Homo sapiens: one gene and its partner. Changing the gene in region 2 together with the main gene of any one other region gives a genetic interaction. Each region holds a gene or a part of one and is shown on either strand. Other genes may lie near its edges.

Evidence for each region. Genes that interact genetically often act in the same process or in processes that back each other up.
Region 1: of CCNH (region 2) and ATG10, changing one suppresses a phenotype caused by changing the other (phenotypic suppression), as found in Homo sapiens cells (one large-scale study listed by BioGRID).

What each region holds. Positions count from the first base shown.
Region 1 is NC_000005.10:81,970,805-81,974,822, forward strand, and holds the start of ATG10 (ubiquitin-like-conjugating enzyme ATG10), read left to right. Parts: upstream 1-1,218; 5' UTR 1,219-1,502; exon of another isoform or gene 1,503-1,787; intron 1,788-1,804; exon of another isoform or gene 1,805-3,257; intron 3,258-4,018. UniProt on the Homo sapiens protein: E2-like enzyme involved in autophagy. Acts as an E2-like enzyme that catalyzes the conjugation of ATG12 to ATG5. ATG12 conjugation to ATG5 is required for autophagy. Likely serves as an ATG5-recognition molecule. Not involved in ATG12 conjugation to ATG3.
Region 2 is NC_000005.10:87,395,931-87,399,430, forward strand, and holds part of CCNH (cyclin-H), read right to left. Parts: coding exon 3,464-3,500; exon of another isoform or gene 3,463-3,463; intron 1-3,462. UniProt on the Homo sapiens protein: Regulates CDK7, the catalytic subunit of the CDK-activating kinase (CAK) enzymatic complex. CAK activates the cyclin-associated kinases CDK1, CDK2, CDK4 and CDK6 by threonine phosphorylation.

The sequences.
Region 1 (4,018 bases), 5.4 Mb from region 2:
ACAGGCGTGAGCCACTGCGCCCAGCCGCATTCTTGTTTTCATCTGTGAAATACGTTTTTAAGGTAAATACTTAAAGTTGATGGAGACACCTGGTCTACTTAAGCTCTCATTCAGAACACACTGCCTTGTGCTTTTAAAAAAATTAAATGGATAATCTAAATTGGCAGCTACCAATTAATTTATATCCATAGTTGCTAAAAAATGTTAGTGTAAGTTCATTTTTATTAGTCGCATCATTTTGAGTTTTAAACTATTTCACATGCAGTAAAATTTATACCTCTTATGGGTTTTGTCAAACAGTGGTTTAGTCACCAACACAATCACGGTATAGAAGCTCTCAAGCTCCTTTTCAGTCACCCCCTTCCTCCAGCCCTTTGCCCTGGTCGCCACTGATCAGTATTCTCTCCTTTTAAAAACACTTATTATTTGGAAATAATTATAGACACAGGAAATTGCAAAAATACTACAGCACCTAGAGTCCCGTGTACCTATCACCTAGTTTCCTCCAATGGTGACATCTTACACAACTGTAGTACAAGATCAAAAAACTATGTCATGTAGTTTGAAGGCAGGTTTTCCTTTCACTTCTTCGCCTGCATTTTCTCCTTTCATTTCCAACAAATTTAACTCTGTTGTTAGAAGGAGCAGATGCTAGTTTTCTTTCAGATGTCTGCTATTTCAGTTCGATTACCCCTGTTACTCCTACATTTTTTCTAGTCTTTATCCCCATCGTTTCGCCCCAATTTAATTTTGCTGCTAGTTTTTTTTTTTTCTCCTCTGGGATATGTGCCACAGATGGTACTATTGTCAATATTCGAATTCCTAACTTCTCCCTCCATCCGTAAGTTTTCAAGGGGTAGCCGTGCTTGTGCTTAATTGTGGTGTTTACAGGACTTTTTGTAGCGTAAGCATGCTGGCATGGTTCCCCAACCTCTTAGGGGGATGCTAGTAACCCGCTCCCCCGTCAACGAGCCGCCTTTGTGCTCCGCGGAGGGCACCGCCTGCGTTGGGTTGGAGGTGGGGGTTGGCGGGGGAGAGCTGCCCGCCAGGCGAGGGGCGGGGCCTTGGCGGGGGTGGTCGCGGGCGGCGGGGAGGTCTCGCTTCCCTCCTCTCCACCCGCTCCCAGTCCCGGCCTGGGTCTCAGCCCCGCCCTGCCCAGAGCGCGCGGCCGATCACGTCACCGGCCTGCGCTAGGCGGCCCCCACGGCGCGGGAAGGCGCAGTGCGCACGCTCCGACTCGGCCGTGGCGGACCTGACTGAAGGAGGCCGCGGACCTGACTGAAGGAGGCCACGGCCACTTCTGGTTGGCCTCGGGGCGCGCTGGCTCGGCTCTTCCTCCGCCCTCGAGGCCCCCGCAGTCCCATCATTCAGTTCCGTAGGGTCACCGGCGCGGCAGTGGCCTCGCAGGGCGCTGGGTCCCTCTCCCCAGCTCTCCTCCCCCTGGCCCCGTCGCCCCGCCCTCGCCGGGCTGGGCTGCGGGGTCAGGGGCCGAGCGGAGAGGGGTGAGTATTCCCCACAGCCCTTGCCGGTTGTCTCCTCCCGGCTCTGCTTCCCACACGGTCCTTGCCCCACTCCTAGGACAGGGAGGAAGGGCACGCGCGGGTAGGCGGGAAACAGCCCAGTCCTGAACAAAAGGCCGGGGAAGCGGGTCCCCGCCGGTAACTGCAGGCCTGTGCTGGCCGCCGCGAGCGGGGAAGGGCGAGGACACTCCCTCCTCGGGGACCCGGTCCCCGTCGCGCACACGGTGTCACCAGCACACCTGGCCCAGTACCCAAAGCACCCTCGAAGTGGGTAGTAACTACTTTGTGTTTAAAATCCACATACTGATAGCAAATCTTTGGTTGAAACAGTATTAAATTACTGGGGCTTCCAGTGGCTGAGTCCAACTTAATTTGAAGTTTCAGATTAAGTATCAGGAGGAATAACTTGATATTTAGAGCCAACAGGTCTTTCTTTTTTTTTTAAACCTCCCAAAAAACCTATAAAATCAAGAATTGGCGGGGAGGACCGGAGAATGATAAAGGAATAGTTGACTGATTTATAGAAACTTTTAGTGGCGGTAAAAATTACAAAAGTATTGGAAATAAGGCAAAAGGACAGCATGTTTTTTTCAGAGTCAAAATGGAGCCTAACAGGCCCACCTGAAGATGATTTAGATGTCTAGGGGACTATATTTTGTTTGGCATGATGATATTGATTAGGGCCTAGGCTTTGTAGTTAACATCTTTTTCATTAATGGAGATGCAAATTATTTCTGAGTGGGAGAGAAAAAAATACAGTACTCCTAAAGGTTGTAGTTTTAGTGCCTTGTAGGATATTAGCCATTTTTCTTTTCTTTTTTTTGAGACAGAGTCTTGCTCTGTCGCCCAGGCTGGAGTGCAGTGGCACGATCTCGGCTCACTGCAACCTCTGCCTCTCGGGTTAAAGCAATTCTCCTGCCTCAGCCTCCCGAGTTGCTGGGACTACAGGTGCCCGCCACCACGCTCAGCTAATTTTTGTAAGTTTAGTAGAGACGGGGTTTCACCATATTGGCCAGGCTGGTCCGGAACTCCTGATTTTGTGATCCGCCTGCCTCGGCCTCCCAAAGTACTGGGATCACAGGCGTCAGCCACCGCGCCCGGCCAATATTAACCATTTTTCTGTCTAACCTATCAAACTTACCATCCTTTCTTCAGTGTTTATGCTCAGTTCCTGAAATGCTTTTGAGCACACTAAGCCATTCAGCTTGTTCCATTGTGAGTTTAATAAATCTTTGTCACAGGTTCATTTTGAGTCATATTTATAACTTTTGTTATTGGACAATGGTCTCTATTCTTTAGTGGCAAAAACAAGTTTATGCTTCTCAGGATGGAAGGACATAGGCCCTGTGTGGTACTCAAATACATCTTAGGACTCCAAGTAGAATCCTTTCTCATTGCTTCAGAAAGGTTAAACAGTGACCAGAGGAAATGTTACAGAACTTTGACCAAAAAATAAATCCTGAGTATTGAGAAATTAAAATTAAAGTCTTGCAAATTGCAGAGTTTAAAAATTGTTATTGATATTTTAAATTGAAGAAATTAGTGGAAATAGTAGTTCTAAATTGCATACATTTGAATGTGGAGTGTTAAAAGATTATTTCCCTTGTCTCCTGTTTTATTTAGGATAAGGTTAACTGAGATTTTGGTACATGGTGGGCCATTCAAGTTATGTATAATGTTTTGTGACAAACTACATGTCGACAGTAGTTCCTGATGCCTAATACATTTCTGAGAAAGGTAAAGCAGCCCTTTAGGAAAAACAAGGAGAGTAAAGCTTACAGAAGATTTCTTAAGATGGGCTTGATTTGATTATCTTTGAAACCTAGAGATGTGTTTGGGACCCAGGAGGTTGTGTTTGAATCATAAATATAATCAGGGAACCTTAAGAAAAAAAAAGCCATGGAGATCATTTGGTGATTATCTATTGAAAACAAATGTTTTCAGGGGACAAGCAGCCTGAGTATAATAAAGCAATTAGAAAGTTGGGGAATGGAGAATAGGAGAATAAGCTGTACCTGAAGGAATCTTAATTAGGGAATGGTTGCTGAAAACTGCAGAGACAAGACTTCTCTAATGTGCTTACCTGATCACATAGTTTTATAGGATCCAGGAAGAGGGCTTAGTAATAGGAGTGTAGCTTTGAAGCTAGGGTTATTTCATATCACTGTCATGTAACATCTTTCTGAGAAAACCTTTTTATCATCTCTTCTGAGCTCAAGAACCTACACTGGTTTCCTATTGCCAATTGTTTTAAATGGAATCTCCTTTGGGTTTTTTGGTTTCTTCTTTTGGTTTTTTAAGAAGTGGGGTCTCTAAGTTGCCCAGGCTGGAGTGCAGTGGCTATTTAGAGGCACAATTAGAAGGCACTACACAGCCGTGACTCCTGGCTCAAGCAGCCCTCCTGCCTCAGCCTCCTGAGTAGTGAGGACTAAAGGCGAGAGCTATGTCTCCAAGCTTCCTTTGAGTTTTAAGACTGTAAACTTCCTGCACCCTGTCCC
Region 2 (3,500 bases):
AAACAATAGAATATATCATATATAAATAATATATCATATATAAATAAGTACAATCAGCCTTCTGTATCCTGTGGGTTCCACATCTGTGGACTAAACCAACTGCGGATTGAAAATAAGGAAAAAAATTCTATCTGTACTGAACATGTACAGAATTTTTTCTTATTATTCCCTCAAGAATACAGTATAACTATTTACATAACATTTACATTGTATTTAGGTATTATAAGTAATCTAGAGATGATTTAAAGTATATGGGAGGATGTGTATAGGTTATATGCAAATACGCCATTTTGTATTAGGGCATCTGTGGATTGTGGTTATGAGCAGAAAGTCCTGAAACCAATCCCCCATGGATACTGAAGGATGACTGTATATAGAATCTATAAAGCACTACAAACCACAAAAATGTGGCCAGGTGCAGTGGCTCACGCCTGTAATCCCAGCACTTTGGGAGGCTGAGGCGGGCGGATCACGACGTCAGGAGCTTGAGACCATCCTTGGCTAACACGGTAAAATCCCGTCTCTACTAAAAATACAAAAAAAAATTAGCTGGGCATGTTGGCATGCACCTGTCGTCCCAGCTACTTGGAAGGCTGAGGCAGGAGAACTGCTTGAACCCGGGAGGCAGAGGTTGCAGTGAGATCACGCCACTGCACTCAAGCCTGGGTGACACAGCAAGACTCCATCTCAAAAACAAACAAACAAACAAAAAAGCCAGAAAATTGGGCAAAGGGGATAAATAAGCAATACAGATGAAATATAAGTGACTGTTAAGTATGGAAAGTTCAATGTCCCATAATCAAGAAAATGCAAATTAAAATACCAATGTGATACTTTTTCACCCAGACTAGCAAAAGCTAAGCATTGATAATCACCCATTGTACAATATGTATGAAAAATGCAAAGAAGAAAAAAACGCTGCTTATTTCATAAATATATGGATATACGTGCAGAGAAAAGGCTGGCAAAGGTAAACAACTGCTAAGTAACTTCTGAGGTCATGACAGATTTGGGTTTTGATCAAAGGGAACTTTGGTTTCACTTGTATTGACTGACAATGACAAAACAGTTTTTGTGTCATGAAAACTAAAGGTAAAATAATTTTGAAGATCAAGGAAAACAAATATTTAGTCCTAAAGTAGCACTACTCATGGTAGCAAGTACCAGAGCTGGTCCATGAACAGTTTCCAGTTTGCAGTGAGTTAAGTACAGGAATTGTGTTTCATAATTTTTTTTTTGTTTTTTTTTTTGAGACAGAGTCTTGCTCTGTTGCCCAGGCTGGAGTGCAATGGCGTGATCTTGGCTCACTGTGACCCCTCCAGGGTTCAAGCAGTTCTCCCTGCCTCAGTCTTACAAGTAGCTGGGATTACAGGCACCCACCACCACGTCCAGCTGATTATTGTATTTTTAGTAGAGACGGGGTTTCGCCATGTTGGCCAGGCTGGTCTCGAACTCCCGACCTCAGGTGATCCGCCCGCCTTAGCCTCCCAAACTGCTGAGATTACAGGCATGAGCCACTGTGCCCGGCCCTAGAAATTTTTAATAGCAATTTGATATAATAATTTTATGACTGCTGAATCTAATAAAACTTGAGCTTATGTTTTTGTCTTCACTTTTCTAGTAATTCATTTTTTATTGAATTTTACAAAAGTATACATCTAGTGATTTTTTTTTAAAAAAGTCCTTCGCAGTTTGAGAAGCACCCCTCAAGTACTCATAGATATTCAGAATTTGGCCCAGTACAAGGCAGATGGCAATCTGGAATACAATGTAAGCTATGGCAGTTAAGAATTTTGGATTATGGTCCATTCAGTTACTTAGCTAGAAAGGGTAGGATTAGTAGTTCAGTGGTCTAATCCAGGGGTGGATAAACTTTTTCTTTAAAGAGACAGTAAATATTTTCGGCCTTGCAGGCCCTATAACCAGTTTCTGTTGCAACTACCTAACTTTTCTGCTGTATCATGAAAATAGCCATAGGTGATATATAAACGAATAGGTGTGCTACATTCCAAGAAACTGTGTTCTAAAAACGCTAATGGGCTGGATATGCCTGGTAGGTAACAGTTTGCCAACCCCTGGTCTAATCCCATTTCAAAATCAATGCAAAAAGGACATAATCAGTGCTGCAATACTTTTATTCATTAAAGTCAACATTACTTCTCTGTAACCACTCTGAAAAATTCCTGTTACCACTGAAACCGAGGAGTGAATGAAATCCACCAATTTCAAGTTCTATGCTAAAACATGCTTTGTCGTTATACCTATAACTATAATAAAACAACCTCATATTCTGCACACTTCCTAAGTCCGTAGATATTCCCCAACTACAACTGTATAGGTAAGGAATTTGAGTCATGTGTATTTGACATAAAGGCCTTGGAATTGCTGTTCTGGCTTTTCATAGTTATCCAGCAGCACATATTCACCAATTACAGAAATAATACCTCAAATACATCTTAAATATAAGATGCCACAGATAACTCCCATTAAATTTTAACAAATAAGGTATAACTTTAAGTAACAAAATGCATCCCACAGGAAATAGAAAATGGCAGTTTCATTAATCCTAGTACCTGTCCAAATTCCCAACTGCTTAAACACCTAAAAAAGAAAGTTTCAGTGGATCTTTCAATTTGCAAAGCACAAATTGCCAATTTTATGGTGATTTTCACATTCAGCTTACAAATCAATTAAGAGACATTAAAGGTGTTCTTATGGCTAGCCACAAGAAGAAATTACATGGCCTCTTTTCCTATTGGCTTTGTGGTCACTATAAAGTTTGTCACTGAAAGAAGTATGCCGGGAGGCCAAGGTGGGCGGATCATGAGGTCAGGAGATTGAGACCATCCTGGCTAACACGATGAAACCCCGTCTCTACTAAAAATACAAAAAATTAGCTGGGCGTGGTGGAGGGCGCCTGTAGTCCCAGCTACTCAGGAGGCTGAGGCAGGAGAATGACCTGAACCTGGAAGGCAGAGCTTGCAGTGAGCTGAGATCGCGCCACTGCACTCCAGTCTGGGCAATAGAGCGAGACTCCATCTCAAAGAAAAAAAAAAAAAAGAAGTATGCCAACTTTCTCTACTCTAGCTAACAGAAGTCTGGAAGAGCATATTTGTTCCTCAGACCAGATATCACAACTTCAAAGAGACAAAAGATTAAAAGGACAGGAAAAGGTAAAAGGATTCCTTAGGAAGACCCTGACCCCTGAAATCCCATGAGAAGTAACAGAACAGGACAGGGCCTGCAAGCCAAAGAACATATGAGTCACAGCAGGATCAGAACTGCACAGTGAATGCCGAACTATTACCTTAATCTCATTAGAAATGTCCATTCAATAAAGAAAATCTGATTTTATGGATCAGTCAGCTTTCCTCTAATGAGCAAACACCAATAAAATGATTTACGAACCAGCTGGACTGGATAACAGTTATGTCTATTGATTAACACTGTCACATTAACTTACGTGATTACGTTAAGTGCAAGCTCAGCAGAATGACATC